Regions from separate parts of the Homo sapiens genome. Here region 2 is linked to region 1. Evidence: fine-mapped expression QTL. A gene starts in region 1. The other region holds a variant in brackets. All regions are shown on one strand. Distances are from middle to middle.

The links.
Region 2: its variant is fine-mapped to the expression of DNLZ in lung (TOPMed, PIP above 0.99).

The regions. Positions count from the first base shown.
Region 1 is chr9:136,359,100-136,368,736 of GRCh38, reverse strand. It overlaps DNLZ (DNL-type zinc finger), which reads left to right and starts at 4,993. Exons shown (of 3, transcript NM_001080849.3): 1 at 4,993-5,250; 2 at 5,609-5,748; 3 at 6,557-9,254. The coding sequence starts at 5,023. The coding sequence ends at 6,725. It overlaps CARD9 (caspase recruitment domain family member 9), which reads left to right. Exons shown (of 13, transcript NM_052813.5): 8 at 909-1,100; 9 at 1,480-1,521; 10 at 1,892-1,937; 11 at 3,520-3,596; 12 at 4,178-4,254; 13 at 4,336-4,781. The coding sequence ends at 4,435. LOC124902309 (a long non-coding RNA gene) reads right to left here and starts at 5,368. Exons shown (of 2, transcript XR_007061863.1): 1 at 5,285-5,368; 2 at 1-1,113. GPSM1 (G protein signaling modulator 1) reads right to left here. Exons shown (of 14, transcript NM_001145638.3): 14 at 9,136-9,637. RefSeq lists enhancers at 2,636-3,525, 3,526-4,416 and silencers at 4,628-4,727, 4,758-5,257, 5,358-5,637.
Region 2 is chr9:136,453,129-136,465,152 of GRCh38, reverse strand. SEC16A (SEC16 homolog A, endoplasmic reticulum export factor) reads left to right here. Exons shown (of 32, transcript NM_014866.2): 9 at 591-733; 10 at 1,413-1,474; 11 at 1,552-1,690; 12 at 2,021-2,266; 13 at 3,879-3,976; 14 at 5,030-5,111; 15 at 5,279-5,396; 16 at 5,598-5,709; 17 at 5,914-6,019; 18 at 7,569-7,709; 19 at 8,987-9,100; 20 at 9,360-9,552; 21 at 10,826-11,044; 22 at 11,643-11,725. Among named protein-coding and RNA genes, the nearest start is that of INPP5E, 19 kb to the right of the region's middle. The variant C/T (reference allele first, on the strand shown) is at 5,168.

The sequences.
Region 1 (9,637 bases):
AGCCTGGGCCACGGGAGTGAGGCCTGCAAGGCCTCCAGTGCTACGTGCTGTGAGCCGGATGGAGCGTCGCGGGGCAGGGCTGTGTCTGCTTCCCATGCCCCGTCCCAAGTCCCATCCTGGAGGTTGTTTCCAATGGACACCATTGCTGCTTCGGCTAAATGCTGGATGGCACTTTGTCCACATCAGGAGCCTTAAAACGAGACCCCTGGGGCTACAAAGGAAGCCCCGGCCCCCATGAGAGCAGCCCAGGCTCAGAGCTCCTGTCTCAGCCCCACCTCAGCCTCACTCGCGCCTGGCCCACGCCAAGGCAGGGGAAAAGGGCAGATCCAGCTGTGCCCCCATGGGGGTTGGTGTGGCTCCCAGGGCGGGGGCTCCCACGGGACTTCCCGGGAGCGCGTTGGCCAGGGATTAGGGAAGCTGCCAGCCGTTGCTCCAGTCTGGGCAGAAGGGGTTAGGTGAGGGCCTCCCAGCCTCGGCTGCAGGGGTGGTCAAGCCGTCGTGTTTGCACATTCGCTCCTGCGTCTCAGTGTCCGCAGTGAGGACAGGGGTGGTAAAGAGTGCTGCGGTCACGAAGGACGCTTAGCTATGGACAGTCAGGGTCTCCATATCAAGCCGCGTCCAAAATTTATCAAATGTGCACGTGTGGGGGTACATAGCACACGCTGTGTCCACCGGGGGTGCAGGCTTGGGAGGAGACAGAAGGGCAGCAGGGACAACTGTCACATTTACAATCCCCCACGTGCTGACTTCGTGTCCGCAGAGCACACAAATGGAGGGGCTGTGACCAGCCTCCGCGCCCAGCGGCTTGACGTCCTCCGGAGCCTCTGCTTGGAGTTGGGCGGCCGGGCCGAGGGCCCAGGGCAAGCTTGGGGCCCTCACTGAGGGTCGGCCTTGTGCTGTCCCGTCAGGCCATAGCCACGCGGGAGGAGCTGCACGCACAGCACGCCCGGGGCCTGCAGGAGAAGGACGCGCTGCGCAAGCAGGTGCGGGAGCTGGGCGAGAAGGCGGATGAGCTGCAGCTGCAGGTGTTCCAGTGTGAGGCGCAGCTACTGGCCGTGGAGGGCAGGCTCAGGCGGCAGCAGCTGGAGACGCTCGTCCTGGTGGGCCTGGGGCCTGCGGCAGGGAGGGGAGCCGGCGCGTGGGATGCAGGGCCAGGGGAGCACGGAGCCTCAGCCCCGGCCTTCCCGACCCAACCCTTCTCTGTGACGGGCCCCAACCTAACCAAACCCCTCCTGGCAGTGGGGTGAGGGCACACGAGCAGTTCAGGGTCCCAGCAGGAAGTGGGGCTGCAGGGCCGGGGTGGGTCCTGGGCCTGGCCATCAGGCAGCCTAGCAGGTTGTTCTGGGCATGGAGGGGGCCTGGTGTGGCTGAGGGCATGCCCAGGGCTCCCTGGAGGATCCCGCTCTGTGCCCTGCCCACCCTGTGCCTGGGGAGCCCTCTGCCCTCACAGCCCACCCACCCCATTTTCTATGACCACAGAGCTCCGACCTGGAAGATGGCTCACCCAGGAGGTCCCAGGAGGTGAGTGAGACCCCAGCCAGCACGAGGCTGGCCTTCCTTCACCTGGGGTCCTGGCTGAGCTGCCACCAGGCATAGCCCCACACTGCCCGTCACATGGCCCTGCTCGGTGGGCTGGGCTGGGTGGAGGAAGAGCAGGTGGCCAAATGCTAAGGCCTCTGATGGCTCAAGGGGTAAGGTAAGGCACGGACAGTGCCCACCTCCTGGCCGCCCAATGTCCGTCTGCTGGGCACCTGAGTCTCTGAGAAGCTCTGTGCAGGGGGTGACGGCAATGGCTGCACCCAGCTGAGGGCCAAGGGCTGGGGTGGGCAGTGTGGCCGGGTCCAGTCCTTGGCGAAGTGGCCTAATGGGACATCTTGACTCTCTTTGGAAGCTCTCACTCCCCCAGGACCTGGAGGACACCCAGCTCTCAGACAAAGGTGAGGTGGGGACAGCAGTACACCCAGAGGCCTCCCAGCTTCCCCAAGTGAGGCCCATCTTCAGCACAGGCAGCCCGTGCCGCAATGCCTGTGTCAACCCCCACAACCCCCACTCCACAGACAGGGAAACTGGGGCTGGGGATAAGTAAAATGGTCAAGGTCACCTAGAGAACAAACTACAGAGCCCAGCTGGAACCCAGGGCCCCAGCTAGTGGGACAAGTGTCCCCTGGGGTGGAGAGTGTGGGGGTCTGGGCAGCCCCCATGGGCTGCAGAGGTGAGCAGGCCCACCGTCCTGAGAGTGTGGGGCCCCTCTGGGCAGCCCCCACGGGGTGCAGAGGTGAGCAGGCCCAGTCCTGGCTGCTCCAAGCTTCCTCCTGGACAGAGGGAGGTGGTAACGAGCGAACGACCAGGTGCATGAAGCTAGAAGATGGGGCGAGATGGGGCCCCACGTGGCTTGAGGGAAAGGGCTGAATGCAGGGGTGGCCAAGGGCCTGCTGTGTCCCGGTGCAGTGGGGGTAAGGCAGTGGCAGGGGCTTCTAGCGGGCAGGGCAGGCCCCCTCTGCCTGTCTGGGGGAAGGACTGGGTGGCTAGCTGGGAGCAGCTCCCGAGTGTCCAGGAGTGGGCAGTGGTGATGAGGTAGGTGTTTGCACTGAAGGTGCTGTCAGGTAGGGGTTGGGGAGGGCCCAGCAGAGGGGTCCTGGGAGGCTGCACCGGAGTTGGACAAGCTTCCTGAGTACCAGGCCGTGGCCTCCAAGCAGAGGCGGAAGGGGAAGGAGGAGCCGCAGACGGGGAAGTGAAGACCAGCGCCTTTGGCTGCAGCTCAGAACACTTGAACATGGGGATGCCAAGCCCCCATGTAGGCACAGAGGCGAGCAGGACCCAGGAGTCCGGCTCAGGCACTGCCCCCATCCCCCTGGGTGGCTGTGGCAGGAGCAGGGGCAGGTGTGAAGGTTGGAGGGTGAGCAGGGGAGGGGCTGGCTCTAAGGGGCTGCCAATGGCCAGGACAGCCCTGGCCTGGCCCTCACCGCAGTGGGGCTGAGACTGGACGTGCGTGGTTTCTGCCCAAGGGTCCTGATCCCTGGTCTGCCCAGGTCCTGGCGGTTTCTGAGGGGGTCCAGCCGCCTGAAGGTTCTCTCCCAATTGCTGCAGTACCCCTGCCCCCACTTCAGGAGGACCCAGACAGCCACTGTAGCTGTCCCCAACTCTCTCCCCAGGGCCGCCATGCCCACAGATGCTTTGGAGTGATGGGGGACGGTGCTGCTCAGGCCCAGGGTTTAAGTTCCCCCGAGGTCTGGGAGGCGTTCCTCCCTGGCAGGCAGCCAGCTCGGGGGAGGGATGGTCACTGGCGGGAGCGTTGGGCCTGGGCTGGCATCTGGCGGCCTCCTGGAGCAATGAACAGGCAAGCGAGGCCATAAGGCCTCAGTCTCATCTACAGAAAGCAGAGTCTACACTGGACCCATGTGGGGATCCCACCAGGCCTTGGAAGACAGCCCCACTGCAATGCCGGGGAGGGGTGGGGCAGCCGTGCTATACGTGGCCCAGCAGATGGGCAGGTCCCACAGGCACGACTCTCCTTTCCAGGCTGCCTTGCCGGCGGGGGGAGCCCGAAACAGCCCTTTGCAGCTCTGCACCAGGAGCAGGTTTTGCGGAACCCCCATGTAAGGCTTCCCCGGGGTGGGGTCCTCCCAGCCGTGGGCCTCAGGGTGACCGATCACAGGGAGAGTGGCTCCCTGCCCTGGGCACCCCCTGCGGTGGCCCCGACGACAGCTGAGGAGTGACCACAAGGTCTCTGCCCACAGTGCTCGGGGTGCGGTGTCTGGGCTGCGAAGTGGATCCCCCTTTCTTGGGCACTGCAGCAGCTTGGGGGGCTTTTTGGACGTGGATGTGCCTGGTCCTGGTTTTCCGAGGGCCTTTACAGTGGATGAGGAGGTGAACACAGGAGTCCTGAGAGCAAGCACCACCTCGGGCTTTGTTGTAGAAACAATGGCCCGGACCCCAGGCTGGAGCCGTGGCTTGGCCTCCTGGGTGTGTCTTGGCATCTGAAATGCAGGCTACCCACACCGGCTCACCTCCAGGGGTACAGGCAGGTCCCACAGGGAGAGCTTGGCGCTGAGCTGAGGCTGTCTGGGCTCCTCGCCTCCCAACCAGTCTGCAGTTACAGGGGCCAGTGGGGGGCGGGTGAGAAGGACGGGTTCCCTCAGGGGAGCCGGCCGGAGCCCGAGCCTTCCCCCTTCTCCAGGACGCAGGCCTGAGCAGCGGGGAGCCGCCCGAGAAGGAGCGGCGGCGCCTCAAAGAGAGTTTTGAGAACTACCGCAGGTAGGCGGGCGGCCCCCAGGCTTCTCCAAAACGGGCTGGGGAGCGGCAGCCGGGTCGCGCCTGAGACACCTGTCTTCACAGGAAGCGCGCCCTCAGGAAGATGCAGAAAGGATGGCGGCAGGGGGAGGAGGACCGGGAGAACACCACGGGCAGCGACAACACCGACACTGAGGGCTCCTAGCCGCAGCAGCGCAGGCCCCGACCAGGGCACACCCACCGGCCCGGCCTCCTGCCACCCGGGGGTGCCGACGCCCTGGGGCGCAGACTTCCCCGAGCCGTCGCTGACTTGGCCTGGAACGAGGAATCTGGTGCCCTGAAAGGCCCAGCCGGACTGCCGGGCATTGGGGCCGTTTGTTAAGCGGCACTCATTTTGCGGAGGCCATGCGGGTGCTCACCACCCCCATGCACACGCCATCTGTGTAACTTCAGGATCTGTTCTGTTTCACCATGTAACACACAATACATGCATGCATTGTATTAGTGTTAGAAAACACAGCTGCGTAAATAAACAGCACGGGTGACCCGCATTCCCGCTCGGACACTCGCGCGCAGCCCCGCGGCCGTCCCTCCTCGCTGCGGCCCGCGGTGTCCTCGGGGTGCGAGCTGCACGTGGACGCAGGGCCCCCTCAGGCCGCCAGGGGGCGGCATAGCGCAGCGCGCCCCCGACCCGGAAGACGGAAGCCCAAGAACGCCGCTTCCGCCCGGCGCCCACTTCCAAGATGGCGGCGGGGCGGGGCCGGGGCAGGGCGGACGGAGCCGGCGAGCGGGATGCTGCGGACTGCGCTGCGCGGCGCGCCGAGGTTGCTGAGTCGCGTGCAGCCCCGGGCGCCCTGCCTGAGGCGGCTGTGGGGCCGCGGGGCCCGTCCAGAGGTCGCGGGGAGGCGGCGGGCCTGGGCCTGGGGCTGGCGGCGCTCAAGCTCCGAGCAGGGGCCGGGGCCCGCGGCGGCTCTGGGGCGCGTGGAGGCGGCGCACTACCAGCTCGTCTACACCTGCAAGGTAGGCGCGCGGCGGGACGGAACCGGGGACAGACCCGTATCTGACGCTACACGGCCTGCGGGGAGAAGCGGCCCGCCGGGGATCCGGGAGGCGGCGTGGTCAAGTCACAGGAAGGAGTGGAGCCACCCCTTGGGGCTTCTGGGAGGGAGCGGAGGCGGACCATGAGGAGGGGTGGAGCCGTCCCTGGGGCGGGGCCTTCCCGGGAGAGGGCGAGGTTGGGGGTGGGTGGAGCTATCCCTCGGGGGCGGGGCCTTCTCTGGAGAGGGTGAGGTGGCTGGAGCTACCCCTAGAGGGGCGGGTCTTCCCGGGAGGGGCGTGGCGGCCCTCACAGCCTCACCAGCTACCCTGTCCCAGCCAGGTCTGCGGGACTAGGTCCTCCAAGCGCATCTCCAAGCTGGCCTATCACCAAGGCGTGGTCATTGTGACCTGCCCCGGCTGCCAGAACCACCATATCATCGCTGACAACCTGGGCTGGTTCTCGGACCTGAATGGGAAGAGGTGAGGCCTGTACCCCAGGGCTGGGCCAGAAGGCCACCCAGAAGTACCCTGGCCTCCCTGGGGGAACCTTGCCCTAGTGTTGAGGTTTATAGATCTCACCTGGGAAATCCAGCCACCTTATCAATACAAGACACACAGTTAAATGAGAATTTCCTATAAAGCCCAGATAGCTTTTGAGTTTAAGTATGCCCCAAGTAGGGGGTGCGTTTTTATTTGTTAAATTTTGCCAGCCCTGTGGCCCTGCCTCCCTGCCTCTGCCTGCCCTCTGCCATCACTGGCAGCCTTGTCCCTCTCTAGCGTGGAACTTTTTTGCCCTCTGCCATCTTGGGGTGGCTGGCCCACAGCAAGGCTTGGGGTGTGGACCAGGAGGTGTGGCCTGGGCCCTGGCTGCTGGGAGAGCAGTGGAGGTGGTGCCGGGAGCCTGGTCCGGGCCTTGCCTGGCCGGGAGGTCCTGGGCAGGACAGTAACAGCGACAGCAGGTCTGAGACCAGCATGCCAGGTGCTTGGTGGTACCTGGCCCTTGGAGCTGGGACTGTCCTCCCATCAGACCCGGGGCTGCAGATTCTTCCCTCTGGCACATAGGGGGCAGGAGCAGGAGACTGGGTTCCTGAGGCGGCGCATACCGGCAGAGACACAGGGCTGGTGAGGGCACACAGGCCAGCGTCTGAAGTGCCCGTGTGGCCTGATGCCACAGGAGTGCTGGGCCTGGTGCTTGCAGCTCTGGCCTGGCCATGGGGCGCCCTGAGGGGACTGAAGTGCAGGGCGGCTGGGGGGCCCTGAAGAGCCATGTTGCCTCCCTGCCCCCCAGAAATATCGAAGAGATCCTGACGGCCAGAGGCGAGCAGGTGCACCGTGTGGCGGGCGAGGGGGCCCTGGAACTGGTTCTGGAGGCTGCAGGGGCCCCCACATCCACTGCAGCTCCGGAAGCGGGTGAGGATGAGGGTCCCCCCAGCCCTGGCAAGACGGAGCCGAGCTGACTCCTGCGCTCCCCGGCACTGTGGGACTTCGGCCTTCCAGAAGGAGGTTTTGGCCCTGGGCCTCTCTGGACGTGGCCTGTTTTCTATCAATAAACAGACATTACTTCCAGATGCTGGGGCCTGTGGCCCTCGTGGCCTTTCTTTTTCTGGAGTTAGAACGATTGCTCTGAATCCCTGGTGCTGCTGGGTGGGACATAGGAGCCGCAGGACCTCTCGCCTCACCACAGTTCCTTCTACACAGAGTCACCCAGCTCTTGCCCACAGAGGCCACAGTCGCGTGGAAAGGGGGCTGGATGTGGCGTCAGAGCCCTTCCTGGCTGTCGCTGCGTGACTTTGAGCAGGTCACCACCCCTGTGAGCCTCAGCCTTCCTCTGCAAGGCCCTTGCCGCCCCCCTGGCCAGCTCTGGCGGCCTCCCTTCCGTGAGCCAGTGCAGACCTGAGCCCTGGTCCTCGGCCGCCGGCCGTCGGCGAAACAGTGAGCAAACCAGGCTGCCTGCTGGCCCAGGCAGGACGAGCAGCTATGGCGTGGCCGTGTGTTAGGAGCTCCAGACCCCTCCCGGGGGAGCCACCTGGGCCTCCTTCCCTCGGTGGACAGCGCTCTGGACGTCCCCAGGGCCCTCCGAGGTGTGTGGGGTTTGTCTCCCAGCCTTGTCTGTGCGCAGGATGTTCCCGTGTTTATGAAAGCGAGCAAACACAGCAGCCTGTTTATTTGCAGAAGCGTTCTGGGCAGCGTAACCTTCAGCATTCATCACCCGCCACACTCCGGCAGGGAAGAGAATGGGGCGAGGTGGGAGGTGGAGGCAGGACTGAGCACGACAGGGACCCAGTGCGGCCCCTCCCAGCGGGACACGGCCAGGACTGCCAGCTCACATCCGGCCCGTGGGAGGCCGGGGCGCGGCGGCATCGTTCCCAGTGTGCTTGTGGCGTGGGCTTTGCCTCGATTACCCCCTGTCCTTCTTTCAGCCAACAACCCTCTATTATTCCCACCCAGAGCCTTCTGTGCCATTTGTGGAAACTGTCCTCTTCTCGGCTGAGCCACCGGCACCCAGGCCTGCTCCTCCATGGAGGCACTGGCTGGGGGTCTCTTGGGGGCTTGGAAGTGCAGTGGGGCTGGGCTTGGCTTGGCTGCCTCACTGCCTCCAGAGGGCCTGGACCAGCATGTGGGGAGGTCCAGGGAGCCGTCTGGACCTGGAAGTGCAGAATTAGAGCAAGGAGAGCCGCTTGGGCCAACCCCTCCTCTTACGGATGGGGAGATGGCGGCTGGTAGTTGGGATGTGGACGTTACCATGTCTTTTCTGTCTGATGCCAGCACCTCTGGGCCCAGGCTGGCCCTGGAGGGAAATCCTTCCCAAGGCTGGCACGTTCCTAGAGAAGACCTATGGCTACCCCCCGCGTGCCAGAAGCATCCCGCCAGCTCCTGCCTGAGGCCCCCTGGACCCTGTCTCCCTCCGCCCTTCCCTCCCCGCAGCCCCAATCCCACAGCCAGGTTTCTGCAAGGGGCTTTGCCATCCTAATCTCCTGCCACTCTACACCCCCCCGCCCCAGGACATCCCTGCCTCCCGGGCACGGTTGCTGGCCTGGGCATCCCTCGTCACAGCGTCTCTCCAAGCAGGTTCCTCGGCCGCACCTTCAGAGGCTGTCCCAGCCAGTAGCGTGGGCGGCACTGCTGCGCTTCCCTGGCTGTGCGCGGTCCTGGGCCCTGCACGGTTACTTGGACCCTGTGTGCGTGTACCACCACACGCAAGCTGGCTGGGACCCTGGACCTGGAGTACACGTTGATTCTGGTTCCCAAGGCCCCTTCTGGGGTGGAGGAGGCAACGGAGTCAACCAGCACAGAGGCTGTGGCTGCCAACATGGCCAGGTGGGCTGTGGCGAGGGGCAGCAGGACTGCCCGGCGCACCTGTGTGTCCCCTGACGGGGGCCCCGTGGGGGTGCCACCCACCACAAGCAGCGCCCAGACAAGCCCCAAGACTGCAGATCTGCCGTCGGCTCCTCCACTGTGGCTCAGTGTCCAGACCCTGAGCCCAGCCGGATCAGACTCCAGGAAAGGACCTCCCTCCCCCGGGTGCTGGGTGGGCGGCAGCAGGCTGGGTCCTCAGGGGGTCGTGGGGCTGACCTGGGGGCTGCTGCTTCTGGGGGCTGGTCCCGGCCACGTGAGTGTCAGCTCAGAGCATGCTCTGTTTCCCTAGGGGCTGGGAGCGTGAGGAGGTAGGGGTGCAGGAATCAGTGGTGACAGCAGGCAGCCACTTCACCCCTCTGTGCCCCAGCTCCCCCGTGGTTAAATGCAGTGGGAACTCCATCTCTCTGAGGTCTCAGAGGGCCCAGACAGTGGGTATCTGTGGACACTTTGCACAGTGCAGCCTCTTACCGGGTTAGGCCCCCACCCGGGACTAAGCCCATACGGACCACACTCACTTGGCCGACTTTATTTTTCAGGAAAAACAGAAAAACAAATGTACCTCTTGGGTTGGAAAGGACCCATTGACAACATGGCACAGACGTGAGCAATAAATACGCACATACATTCAAGTATGCGGGGGGGCGCTACGTCCTGGAGACCCTGTGTTCGGGCACCTGTCCCTGCTCTCGGGTGCGGCCCTGCCCCTCCAGAAGCAGGTCACCTCACCAGGCCCAGATCTGCCTCTCCATCCTAGCCTGAGAGTGGGGCCTAGAGGCACCCTCCTAGATGGAACTGCCAGCCCTGGGGGCTGTGGGGCCATGGTAGGGCCCTTGGCAGTCTTGGGAGGTGCCAAGGCTGGGTCTGGACAGGAGGAGGCAACCTCAGGCCCCTGGGGCCCATCTCAGGCTCCAGCAGGTCCTGCCAGTCCTAGGATCCCGAACTTGGTGCCCTGTGAGCCCCCTCCCCATGGAGAGAGCAGTGATGTCATCTCCCCCAGCTGGTGGGAGGAGGG
Region 2 (12,024 bases), 95 kb before region 1:
TGTTTCAGTTAACATTTTTTCATTTCTTTTTTTTTAAGAGACAGAGTCTCACTCTGTCACCCAGGCTGGAGTGCAGTGGCACGGTCATGGTCTCTGTCTCCTGGGTTCAGGTGGCCCTCCTGCCTTGGATCCTTTCAAAGTGCTGGGATTACAGGCATGCACCACTATGCCTGGCTCCTTATTTTCTTTTTTGCTTGAGGTGTTTTGCTGTCCTTTTTGCTGGGTGCTGTGTGGTCATCGCAGTCTGAATTTGATTTTGTGAAAATGGAAGAGCTCGGGAGTGGGCCAGGCCTGGGAGGATTACGCACCGTGGCAGGAGCCTCAGGGCGGCTCATGAGGGTGTTGCGGGAGCTTTCTCAGTGTACAAGGGAACAGCTTTCATGCTTAATGATTCAGACATTTTTCTTTTCCTGACGTATGCTGAAGTTCTACTTTTAAGTATGATATTAAACAATTACCGACTTTTGAGTTGGAAGTCTGTCGTGATAAATCTAACCTGTGATTTAAGCTGTGTGAGCACATTGAAAATCTAGGCTCAGAAGCATCAGTGACAAGCTGATTGTTTCTTTTTCAATTTATTTTAAATGCAGTTTCATCAAGACCAACTTCTCCTGAAAAATTTTCAGTGCCTCATGTCTGTGCCAGGTTTGGCCCTGGCGGTCAGCTTATCAAAGTGATTCCCAATCTGCCTTCAGAAGGACAGCCGGCCTTGGTGGAGGTCCACAGCATGGAGGTAATGGCACACGCAGAAGCGTGGCGTCACTGCTCTGCTGCCCTGGGGAACTCTCTGCTTTGCAGTTTGTCATCTTCAATTGTCAGACCTTGTCTCTGGACATACGTCCTTGGAAAATGTTTATTCCTGTGAATTTTCAATTTGTAGGGTTTTTCTTCTATTTGATCATATATTTTTCCTCCTAGAAGTCAGTATTGTAAGCGTCTGCCTTGGGTGTTCAACGTGGTTTGATTGTATATGCATTTTCTGTCCTCGTTTTGGGGATGTTTGCTTTATTGGTGCTTTTCAATGATAGATGCAGTGGGTGGGCCCGGTGCTGCCCAGGTGAGGGGGGCGGGTGGGGTGGACGTGCACGGCGCTGCCGAGGTGACGGGGGCTGGCATGCGCCTCTTCCTGCAGCTTCTGCAGGCTTCTGTCACATGTATTGGGGTTCTGCCTCAGTATTTGGGGAGAGAAAATGGATTTCACTACTTAAAATAAAGTTTGAAATCATGGCTGTGGTCCACACAGGCCATGTTCCATGTAACAGCCTCGACAGAGCCTTCACCTGCTGTGGGGCGGGGCAGGTGGGCCATGCCATCCTCTCCTCTCACGGGCAGCATCCGTGCCTGGGTTGGCCGGCCTGCCAGCAGGGTGGCTGCGCACTGGCTGCCACTGACCCACGGCCCTCTCCTCGTAGGCCTTGCTGCAGCACACGTCTGAGCAGGAGGAGATGCGGGCGTTCCCGGGACCCCTGGCCAAGTATGTTCCTTGTTGAGGCATTTCTTTGTGAGCCCGGCCTTGCAGACATCACTGCTCACTGTGTGTTCTTTCTGCAGAGACGACACCCATAAGGTGGATGTCATTAATTTTGCACAGAACAAAGCTATGAAATGTTTGCAGAATGAAAACTTAATTGACAAAGAGTCTGCAAGTCTTCTTTGGAATTTTATTGTTCTCTTATGCAGACAAAATGGGGTATGTTTCTTTCTACTTCTAGAGTGTTTCTTCTTGCTGGTCTTCATTTCGTCTTGGGAATGCTCAGCCTCCCGAAGGAGCAGGGCGGGATCCGCGTGGCCAGCTATGGGAGCCTCGAGGGCCCCCTTAGGAAGCACACTGTAGTGGCTGGGTAGGGAGGGAGAGGGAACGTGCGGTTGGGATGGGATGAGGTTTCAGCCCAGCCTTGCCAGCCTTTCGGGTAGTTGTGGGTCTGGCTGTGTCCAGGGTGGGGCTTTGTGCCTGTGGTGGTCCAACGCGTCCTCACCTGAGAGCCGTTGTTCTCCTTCCTGTTCCTGTTGACCCAAACAGACCGTGGTAGGGACCGACATTGCGGAGCTTCTGTTACGAGACCACAGAACAGTGTGGCTTCCTGGGAAGTCGCCCAATGAAGCAAACCTGATTGATTTCACGAATGAGGCAGTGGAGCAGGTGGAAGAGGAGGAGTCTGGTGAGGCCCAGCTCTCTTTCCTCACTGGTGGTCCGGCGGCTGCCGCCAGCTCGCTCGAGAGAGAGACCGAGAGGTTCAGGGAGCTGTTGCTGTATGGCCGTAAGAAGGTGCGCCTCCTCATCATGGCACCTGGCGCCTGCACATGTCCACTGGGTCGGGCCTGGTGCGGGGTTGCAGCCTTCAGGGAGGGACGTGGCCCCCTCTTGGGAGCATCCGCGCTGCAGTGTGGGGCTTCGGGTCTTGCTGTTTCCTGAACAATGCCTGACTCTTGTATGCCATCCTTCTGGAGGTGTTAATGTTGGTTTCCTTCTAACTGTTTCCAGTGTTGGAGACCTGCAGATTAAATTTTCAGTTATTCGATAAATGCACATGTTGAGCACAGGCCGTGCCCCTGCTGTGTGTGCCAAATCTCGGATGAAATGTGCATGACACAAGTTGTGGCATTCTCACAAAGTCAGACTCGAGTCCACAGCCCAGAAGTCATTGGGAGTTGGGAGGGCACACTGAACCTGTCAGAGGCGCAGTGCATGGAAAGGCCATGGGCAAGAGAGCAGCCAGTGCGTGTAGCGTCCAGTGACTGGGGTCACAGCAGCGTGGGGACTGGGGCAGGTGGGGGGCCTGAGACAGGAGCCTGCTCTGGGACAGTGGGGTTGGGGGGTCCATAGTGACTGCAGCAGTGACACTATGTGCACAGGAGGGGCTGTCTAGGGTGCATGATGTTTGCTTTGGATGTGCTAAGCAGGAGAGAGGCCAGTCTCAGAAGCATGTGTGGCCCTGAACAGCAGAGACATGGGATAGGCTGAGAGTTTTCTGTCCTTTTATATCATGATAAACTCAGAAAGGGCATATTTGACCAGTATTTTTATTTTTTTATTTTTAATTTTTTTTGAGACAGGGTCTCACTCTTGCCCAGGCTGGAGTGCAGTGGCGTGATCACAGCTTAATGTGGCCTCGACCTCCTGGGTTCAAGTGATCCTCCCATCTCAGCCTCCTGAGTAGCTGGGACTACAGCTGCATGCCACCACGCCTGGCTAACTTTTTTTTTTTTTTTGTAGAGACGGGGTTTCACCATGTTGCCAGGCTGGTCTCGAATTCCTGGGCTCAAGCAATCCGCCCACCTTGGCCTCCCAAAGTGCTGGGATTATAGGCATGAGCCACCGCGCCCGGCCTGATCAGTATGAGTCTATTATGGATGTTTTATAACTGATTGAAGTCATGTAACCTGTTAGCTTTTATTAACATCTTTCTCTACTGTAACGTTTTTGCCTCCCAGCCAGAAGTTCTAAATTATGCCCTGGATGATTTTGGTGAAAGGGGAGGCTGCCTTACTGGAGTCACTCTCCGTGTTGACAGGATATTCGCGGAGGCCTCCTGTTAGAACTGGGGAGTTGACTCGAGCGTGTTTCCCAGTGGATGGGGCGGCGTGGTGGGCAGCGCTGCGTGATTAGCCCTGTTTGTGATTAGCGTGCTTGTGTTTTATGCTGAAAATGGATAAAAGCAGCAAATATCTACAAATACCCACTACCACAGGGACTTTGAAACTCAGGAAAATAATGAATCGCTACGTGTCTTTAGTCTCCAAATGGTGAATAAGTGTGTTTTTGAGGCCTTTGGGTTGTTTGTGTATCTGCTGCTGCGTGAGGACACATGGCCTGTCTTGACTCATGTCACGTGAGCGCCGCCGATAACCCACCAAGGTCCCTGAAATGCCTTTTGCAGGATGCTTTGGAGTCTGCAATGAAGAATGGCCTGTGGGGTCACGCTCTGCTACTTGCAAGTAAGATGGACAGCCGGACACACGCCCGAGTCATGACCAGGTACAGTCCCACAGTGGCCTGGTCCAGTGGCGAGCCCTGCTGGCTCCCTGTAGCACGCGGCGTCCGCACCCTGGGGGCAGGCGGCAGGCGGATCTCACTTGACTGTGCTGTGCTCCCACACGAACTCGGGCTTCCTTGGCCTCGAGGCTTCCTTGGGTCGTGTTGTGGAGAGCTTAAAAAGTTTTTAATTAACTGCATGGTTTTTAGTACTTCATGTAAAATCTCAGTGAATTCCTCAGTCTTCATCTTTTATAGCTTTTTTTAAATTTTGAGTTTTGCTCTGTTGCCCAGGCTGAAGTGCAGGGGCGCGATCTCAGCTCACCGCAACCCCTGCCTCCCAGGTTCAAGTGATCCTCACGCCTTGGCCTCCCAAGTAGTTGAGACCACAGGCACCCACCACCACACCCAGCTAATTTTTTGTATTTTTAGTAGAGGTGGGTTTTGCCATGTTGGCCAGGCCGGTCTCAAAACTCCTAGCCTCAAGGGATCTGCCCGCCTTGGCCTTCTGAAAGTGCTGGGATTACAGGCGTGAGCCACCATACCTGGCCTTATCTTTTACAGCTTTTTTTTTTTTTTTAATATTGAGATAAGAAAGAAAAATAAAATATTGAGATGTGTGTACTTTGCCTAAGTGAAATATAAGTCTAATCATTACATCAGAGGGCTTAGGGCTGATTTTTTAAAAAATTTATTTTATTACTATTTTATTTATTTATTTTTTTGAGACAGAGTCTTGCTCTGTCACCCAGGCTAGAGTGCAGTGGCACGATCCCAGCTCACTGCAACCTCTGCCTCCTGGGTTCAAGCGATTCTCCTGCCTCAGTCTCCTGAGTAGCTGGGATTATAGGTGTGCACCACCACACCCGGCTAATTTTTGTATTTTTAGTAGAGATGGGGTTTCTCCATGTTAGTCTCTTAACTTCTGACCTCAGGTGATCCGCCCACTTTGGCCTCCCAAAGTGCTGGGATTACAGGCGTGAGCCATCATGTCCGGCCGGCTTTTTTCTTTTAGCTGAGCCAGCATGGGGTCTTTCTGTGTTTATGTCTGCCTAGGTTTGCTAACAGCCTCCCAATCAACGACCCTCTGCAGACAGTCTACCAGCTCATGTCCGGACGGATGCCTGCCGCGTCCACGGTGAGTGGCACTGCCTGGTGGCTTGCACAGGCTCCACTGCCTGTGTGGAGTTTGCT[C/T]GTGGGTGACGCTGTCACAGGCCGTGAGGTGCCTGGTGAGCCCAGCTGTGTGGAATTGAAATGGCGCTGGCTTCCGGGGATGAGGCTTCGTTTTGTTTTTCCTCATGTTAGTGCTGTGGAGACGAGAAATGGGGAGATTGGAGGCCGCACCTCGCCATGGTCTTGTCCAACTTGAACAACAACATGGACGTCGAGTCCAGGACGATGGCTACCATGGGCGACACTCTGGGTAGGTCAGGGGTGGAGATGGGCATTGGGTGTCGCGGATGGAGCGCCGAAGGCCCGGTTGTCTGTGGCGTTGGCAGAAATCACCAGAACCCGGCCTTCTCGGTCCGGCTGGCGTCTCTGGTGCCTTCTGTGCGCGTCCTTGACTTCTGCAAGCGCTCCCGGTCGCTGAGCCCCCGCCGTGTGTCGTGTCGTCTCTCCGCAGCTTCAAGGGGCCTCTTGGATGCGGCCCACTTCTGCTACCTCATGGCCCAGGCGGGATTTGGTGTTTACACGAAGAAAACTACAAAGCTTGTCTTAATCGGATCCAATCACAGGTAAAGAACCAAGTCAGTGTAGTCCTGTAAGTTTTCCTTTCAAAGTAAAACAAAATCCTTCTCCTTTAGTGAATTCAGAAATGGCCAGAATCATGTCTTTATTTGTCACGTGGTGGGACACACTTCTGGATGATTTGCTCCAAGGTTGACTATGCCAATAATTGGCCATTTTTTCCAAATCAAAATAATTCACTTCCTCTACAGTTTGCCATTCTTAAAGTTCGCAACCAACGAAGCAATCCAGAGGACGGAAGCCTATGAGTACGCCCAGTCCCTGGGTGCCGAGACCTGCCCCCTGCCTAGTTTCCAGGTAAGCAGGTGCTGCCAGCCTGCAGCTGTCATGGCTGGGCAGGCACTCAGTGCTAACAAGCTTTTGGCTACTTAGATTGTTTGAATTGGTATCGAAAAAAATGATGTGAGTTTTTTGGGGGAGGATCTTGAGAAGACATTTGATCTAAAATGCTAAGAAACAAGATCCCATTGAATTGAGGCTTTCCGTTTGCATTTGATTTCAATTATTTTCATGAGCTTTTTTTTTAAGGGAGACAGGGTCTCACTCTGTTGCCCAGGCTGGAGTGCACTGTTTTGATCACTCCCAGGCTCAAGTGATTCACCTCAGCCTCCAGAGTAGCTGGGACTACAAGCAGCACTACCATGCCACACTAATTTTTTTTATTTTTTGTAGAAAAAAACTGTGTTGCCCAGACTGATCCTAAACTCCTGGGCTCAAGCAGTCATCCTCTCAGCCTCCCAGAGTGTTGGGATTACAGGCGTGAGCCACCGCACCTAGCCTGTATGAGCTTTTTTTTTTTTTTTGAGACCGAGTCTCGCTCTGTCACCCAGACTAGAGTGCAGTGGCACGATCTCCGCTCACTGCAAGCTCTGCTTTCTGAGTTCACGCCATTCTCCTTCCTCAGCCTCCCGAGTAGCTGGGACTACAGGCACCCACGACCACGCCCGGCTAATTTTTTGTATTTTTAGTAGAGATGGGGTTTCACCGTGTTAGCCAGGATGGTCTTGATCTCCTGACCTTGTGATCTGCCCACCTCAGCCTCCCAAAGTGTTGGGATGACAGGCGTGAGCCACCGCGCCCAGCCGTACGAGCTATTTTTAATATTTGAGGGCGGTATTCTCTGATGCAGTGTGGGGGTGGTGTCTATAAAACATACATGAGAGGCTGAGCATGGCGGCTCATGCCTGTAATCCCAGCACTTTAGGAGGCCAAGGTGGGTGGATTACCTAAGCTCAGGAATTAGAGACCAGCCTGGGCAACATAATAACACCCTGTCTCTACAAAAAAAAAAAAAAAAAAATACAAAAATTAGCCAGGCGTGGCAGCATGCACCTGTGTTCCCAGCCACTCGGAGGCTGAGGTGGGAGGACTGCTTGAGCCCAGGAGATTGAGGCTGCAGTGAGCTGTGATTGTGCCACTGCACTCCAGACTGGGTGACAAAGTGAGACCCTGTCAAAAAAAATAAAAAAGAATGAAGTATCTAGAGAATGTCTGTGGAGCAGCTTAAGCTACACGGAAGGCAGTGGTCTCAGTGCCGTGCTCTTGGGGCGTTGTGACTGTGAGAGCCGAGTGGCCCCATGAAAGGGGTTGGGGGGAAAGCAGAGTGAGTTTGCTACCAGCTTAGTCGTTTACTTTGCTCTTGAAATCCCTTGGGGAACAGGGACTAGGACTGTGGTCAGCGGGCGTGGTGGGTGGGAGACGATGATGAGTGAAGTGTCCAGAAGAGTTCACAGCTCACAGGGCGATGCTCGGATGCAGGGGAGCCTCAGGGCAGTACAAGGCTTTGTCCATCGGCGATGCTCGGACGCGGGGGAGCCGCAGGGCAGCAAGGCTTCTGTCGTTTCAGGTGTTTAAGTTCATCTACTCCTGCCGCCTGGCGGAAATGGGGCTGGCCACGCAAGCCTTCCACTACTGTGAGGCCATCGCGAAGAGCATCCTGACGCAGCCGCACCTGTATTCCCCGGTGTTGATCAGCCAGCTTGTGCAGGTGCTGCCCCTGGCGCCTGTCCTCGGGATGCTGTGCTGACTGCAGGGAAGGAGGGCTTGCCAGAGCCCCCGGGCATGGGGGTAGCGATGGTTCAGACGCGCATTGTGGTAGGCGCTCAGAACCTGCCTCTTGGGCGGATAAAGATCTTTGAATGGCTTCGTGTTTTGCGTCTTAGCCTGGGAACTCTCAGGCACCGTGTGCCAGCACAGAGCCTTGGCAGCGAGTTTCACAATCAGAAGGAACTACCTGTAGGATACTCTTCTTTTATTGAGACGCAGTCTCACTCTGTCACCCAGGCTGGAGTGCAGTGTGGTGCAATCTCGGCTCAATGCAACCTCCGCCTCCCAGATTCAAGTGATGCTCCTGCCTCAGCCTCCCAAGTAGCTGGGATTACAGGCGCCTGCCACCACGCTTGGCCAATTTTTTGTATTTTTAGTAGAGATGGGGTTTCACCATGTTGGCCAGGCTGGTCTCGAACTCTTGACCTCAAGTGATGCATGCATCTGCCTTGGCCTCCCAAAGTGCTGGGATTACAGGCGTGAGCCACCACGCCCGGCCAGGATATTCTTATTTTGAGGCAATTTAGTCTGGTGGTTGATAGCTTAAGTGTCCAGAGTCCAGCAGCCTTTGCTTGAGTCCTGGCTGTACTGCTGCAGGCCTCAGTTTCTTCGCCTGTAAAACAGAGGCGGCATGACTGACGAGAGTATGGGAGGCGCCCGTGTTGCATCAGGATCTTCACCTCTTGTCAGTAGTTCCATTTGTGAGAACGTGCTCATGGGATACCCAAAAACTGTATTAGGGACATTTTTAGACCCATTTCAAAGTTCAGAGAGTCATTCATGCATGCGTCCTTAGGTGCTCATCCCCCACCTTAGTGGTTACGAACACAGGGCCAAACTTGTGTTCTGCCCCCTCTGTCCCGCTCTGCATCCCCCAAATTCCCGATGAAAGCATGCAGACATTCCTGGGGGAGTCCAGCTTTTGCTGAGTCAGGTCCACGTGGTCAGGTGGTAGTCTCGGGCCAGGCCTGTTCCAGGGGGGTGCCTAGCACTGCCAACCCAGTGCCCGTGGGCCAAGAGGTCGTCTACAGCAACTTCCCAGTCACCCAGCGTCCCATGTGCTGTGTATGTCACCTAAGCACATACTAGAAACATATAGGCAGCTAATTAAACTTTATTGCCAGTGAACACTGAAGCTGCATTGCCCGGCATTTTGAAGACGGCTCACTTGCCATCACCCGGTGGTGACAGGGGCCTTTGATTTTTGCCCGTGTCTAGATGGCTTCCCAGTTACGACTCTTCGATCCCCAGCTGAAAGAGAAGCCAGAAGAGGAGTCCTTGGCCGCACCCACGTGGCTGGTTCACCTGCAGCAGGTGGAGCGGCAGATTAAGGTACAGCCTTGGCTTGGGGTGGCACAGAGGCGTCTGGCAAGGTGGCTTCTGTCCCTGTCATTTCCACACTGAAAGTATGTATCTGTAAAGACAGTGTAACTGCAAACGTGTGCCTATGAGAATTCCCTAATTCCCCAGAAAGGGCTTTGAGTGCCTCCTGTCCTGAAGTAGGGACACAGCAAGCGCGGTGGTGGCAGGCGGGCAGCGCTGCAGAGCGGCCACAGGCGGCTTCCACAGGGCAGGTCTTGTTCTCCCTCAGGAGGGGGCTGGAGTATGGCATCAGGATGGAGCCCTCCCGCAGCAGTGTCCTGGCACTCCGAGTTCCGAGATGGAGCAGTTGGACAGGCCAGGACTCAGTCAGCCAGGAGCCCTGGGGATCGCCAACCCTCTGCTGGCGGTGCCTGCACCGAGCCCTGAGCACTCGAGCCCGAGCGTGCGGCTGCTGCCCTCAGGTGAGCCCAGGTGCGCGGCTGCTGCCCTCAGACAAGCCCCTGCTTCCTGTGGGCTGAGCCATGGCCTGCACCCTTGCCTCCTGGAGAACTGCTTTCAGATGTGGACTGTTGGAGGCAGTGTCTCACACCACCTCGGTGGTTGTGGGGCTCCTCGGTCTCCTCCCTCTTCCCTTCATGCTTCCTCCCCTGAGGAGCCCATGGAGGGGAGGCTCATGGCTTTCCATGTCCATAAATATCCATGTGCTGGCGACACTGCCCTGAGCGCCCGCTGCCTGCTCAGCCTCCCTGCTTGTTTCTCCGGGAGCCTCAGCCGCACCGTGTCTGGGCGGCGCCCTCGGCTGTGCCCCTCTGTAACCTGCTTCTCCCAGTCGGCCCCGTCGGTGGAAGGGCCAGCCCAGAGCTCCAGGGAGTCAAGTCCAGATGCCCCCTCCTCTCTCGCGCTTCTCGGCTTCCTTCGTCAGTGAACCTCACCAGCGCGGCCTGCACGCAGGTCCGCATGCCTGGATGAGCACGGGCTCCTTCCTGCTCGCCTCCTGCTTCTTCCCCAGACCCTCCAGACTCTCCATCTCACCTGAGGACAAGCCAGGGTCCTCACGGTGGCCACAGGCCCTCCAAGCTTGGCCCTGAGCCCTCCTGCCCTCGTGCCATGTCCACTCCCACGCTGTGGACCAGCCACACTCCTGATTTGGGCCCACTGCCCACCCTCCCTGCCTGATGTCCAGTCTGCTTCGTCCTCAGACACCGTTACCACTTCCTGGTTGATTGCTGTCCTTAGCGCTTTCTCTTACTCAGTTCATCTGTCCCGACCCCCATGAGGACCCAGCATTTCTTTTGTTGTTGAAGCATCCAGGGCCCAGCATGGTGCTGGTAGGCAGCAGCCCTCTCAGGTTTTATGTTGAGTCGGAAGAATGAAGGAATGAACGAGTGGCCTGTGTGACCCCTGGCCGTGGAGGAGGGGACTCGGGCCTAGCAGAGCTCTGTGCCAGGCGGCCGCCATGGGCTTGCGTGTGGGCCGGGCCCTGGAGCCCGCGTGCCGCTGTGACTGCTCAAGTGCCCCTCCCCTAGAAAAGGAAGCGGATACTCTGCTTTTCTGCAAACCACGGATGGTGCGGTGGGGTGGTGGCTTCAGGCTTTCTGCTCTGTTGGACCTCCCTTATAAAAGAAATGGGGCTGTACAAAATAACTTGTCATAAACACGTCGAGTGTCAGCTCCTTCCAGTAACTCAAGCTACCCTCAGTAACCCCAGACCTCTTCTCCACCGTTCCCATGCAGCTCCGCAGACGCTCCCTGACGGCCCATTGGCCAGTCCTGCCAGAGTGCCGATGTTCCCAGTGCCACTGCCCCCGGGGCCCCTGGAGCCGGGTCCTGGCTGTGTGACCCCAGGGCCTGCACTTGGCTTCCTGGAGCCCTCCGGGCCTGGCCTCCCACCTGGTGTGCCACCTCTGCAGGAAAGGAGACACTTGCTCCAGGAAGCCAGGAGCCCAGACCCAGGTGGGGCTGCAGAGATGCTGTCTCGAGAGCAGAAGCAGCATGGGGTGTGGTGTTTGTGGGGATTGGTGGAAGAGATTGAAGTTATTTGAGCTTGAAACAACTTACATTACTTGTCTTAACGTAGACCAGAAATTCTGGAAGTTACAGACTGGATGGGTTCAGAGTCTCACTACAACAGCAGTGTTAATGCCAGTTCCTTTTGTAACTTGGCTTTTTGTTGTGAAGCTTAAATGGCCATTTGGGGCAGGGCATGGTGGCCATGGGTCTCCTGGGGTCTGTCTTTAGACGGCCCTGCTGGACGCCTGGTGAGATGCACAGGGGCAGGTCATGAACTGTCTGGAACTCGATTTGGTGGATCTTGTCCCTGGTCTGTGCCTATGTCTACATGTGTGTATATGGACAAAGCAAAACATAGGCCTAGTTTTAAAAATGAAAGAGTGTGCACACATGTGGGAAGATGTTCAGCCTTGGTTTCTGCAGATCATGCTGGTGTGGCGGTAGCTGGGTGGGAAGGTGGTGTGCCTGTTGATCTGTGCGCCACACACACGTCCCGCCTTCTCGTGACTGAGATCATAGTTGCTCTCTTTCCCGTTGACAGGGATAGTGCCGCAGGAGGCGCCTGTTGGAAACTCACTTTCCGAGCTAAGCGAAGAAAATTTTGATGGAAAATTTGCTAATCTGGTACTTTGTCACATTTTCTTAAACTGTTTGTTTTCCATAAAGTTCATCGAGTGGGCACCCAGACTCCTTGTTGAGTTGTAAGATGATGGTAGTGAGGACTATGAAATTGTTTCTAAAATTGTTTCTTAAAGTGAAAGTGCTTCTAAATAGCTTTCATCCTTAAAATATGAAGAGTTGGTGAAAACACTGGCAGGGAAAGATGGGGAAGAGAGAATTCAGTAGTGTAAAAACAGTTACTTTAAGTAGAAGAAATACCCAAATATCATGAAATCCCCTTATTAATTTTAATTCTTCCAAAA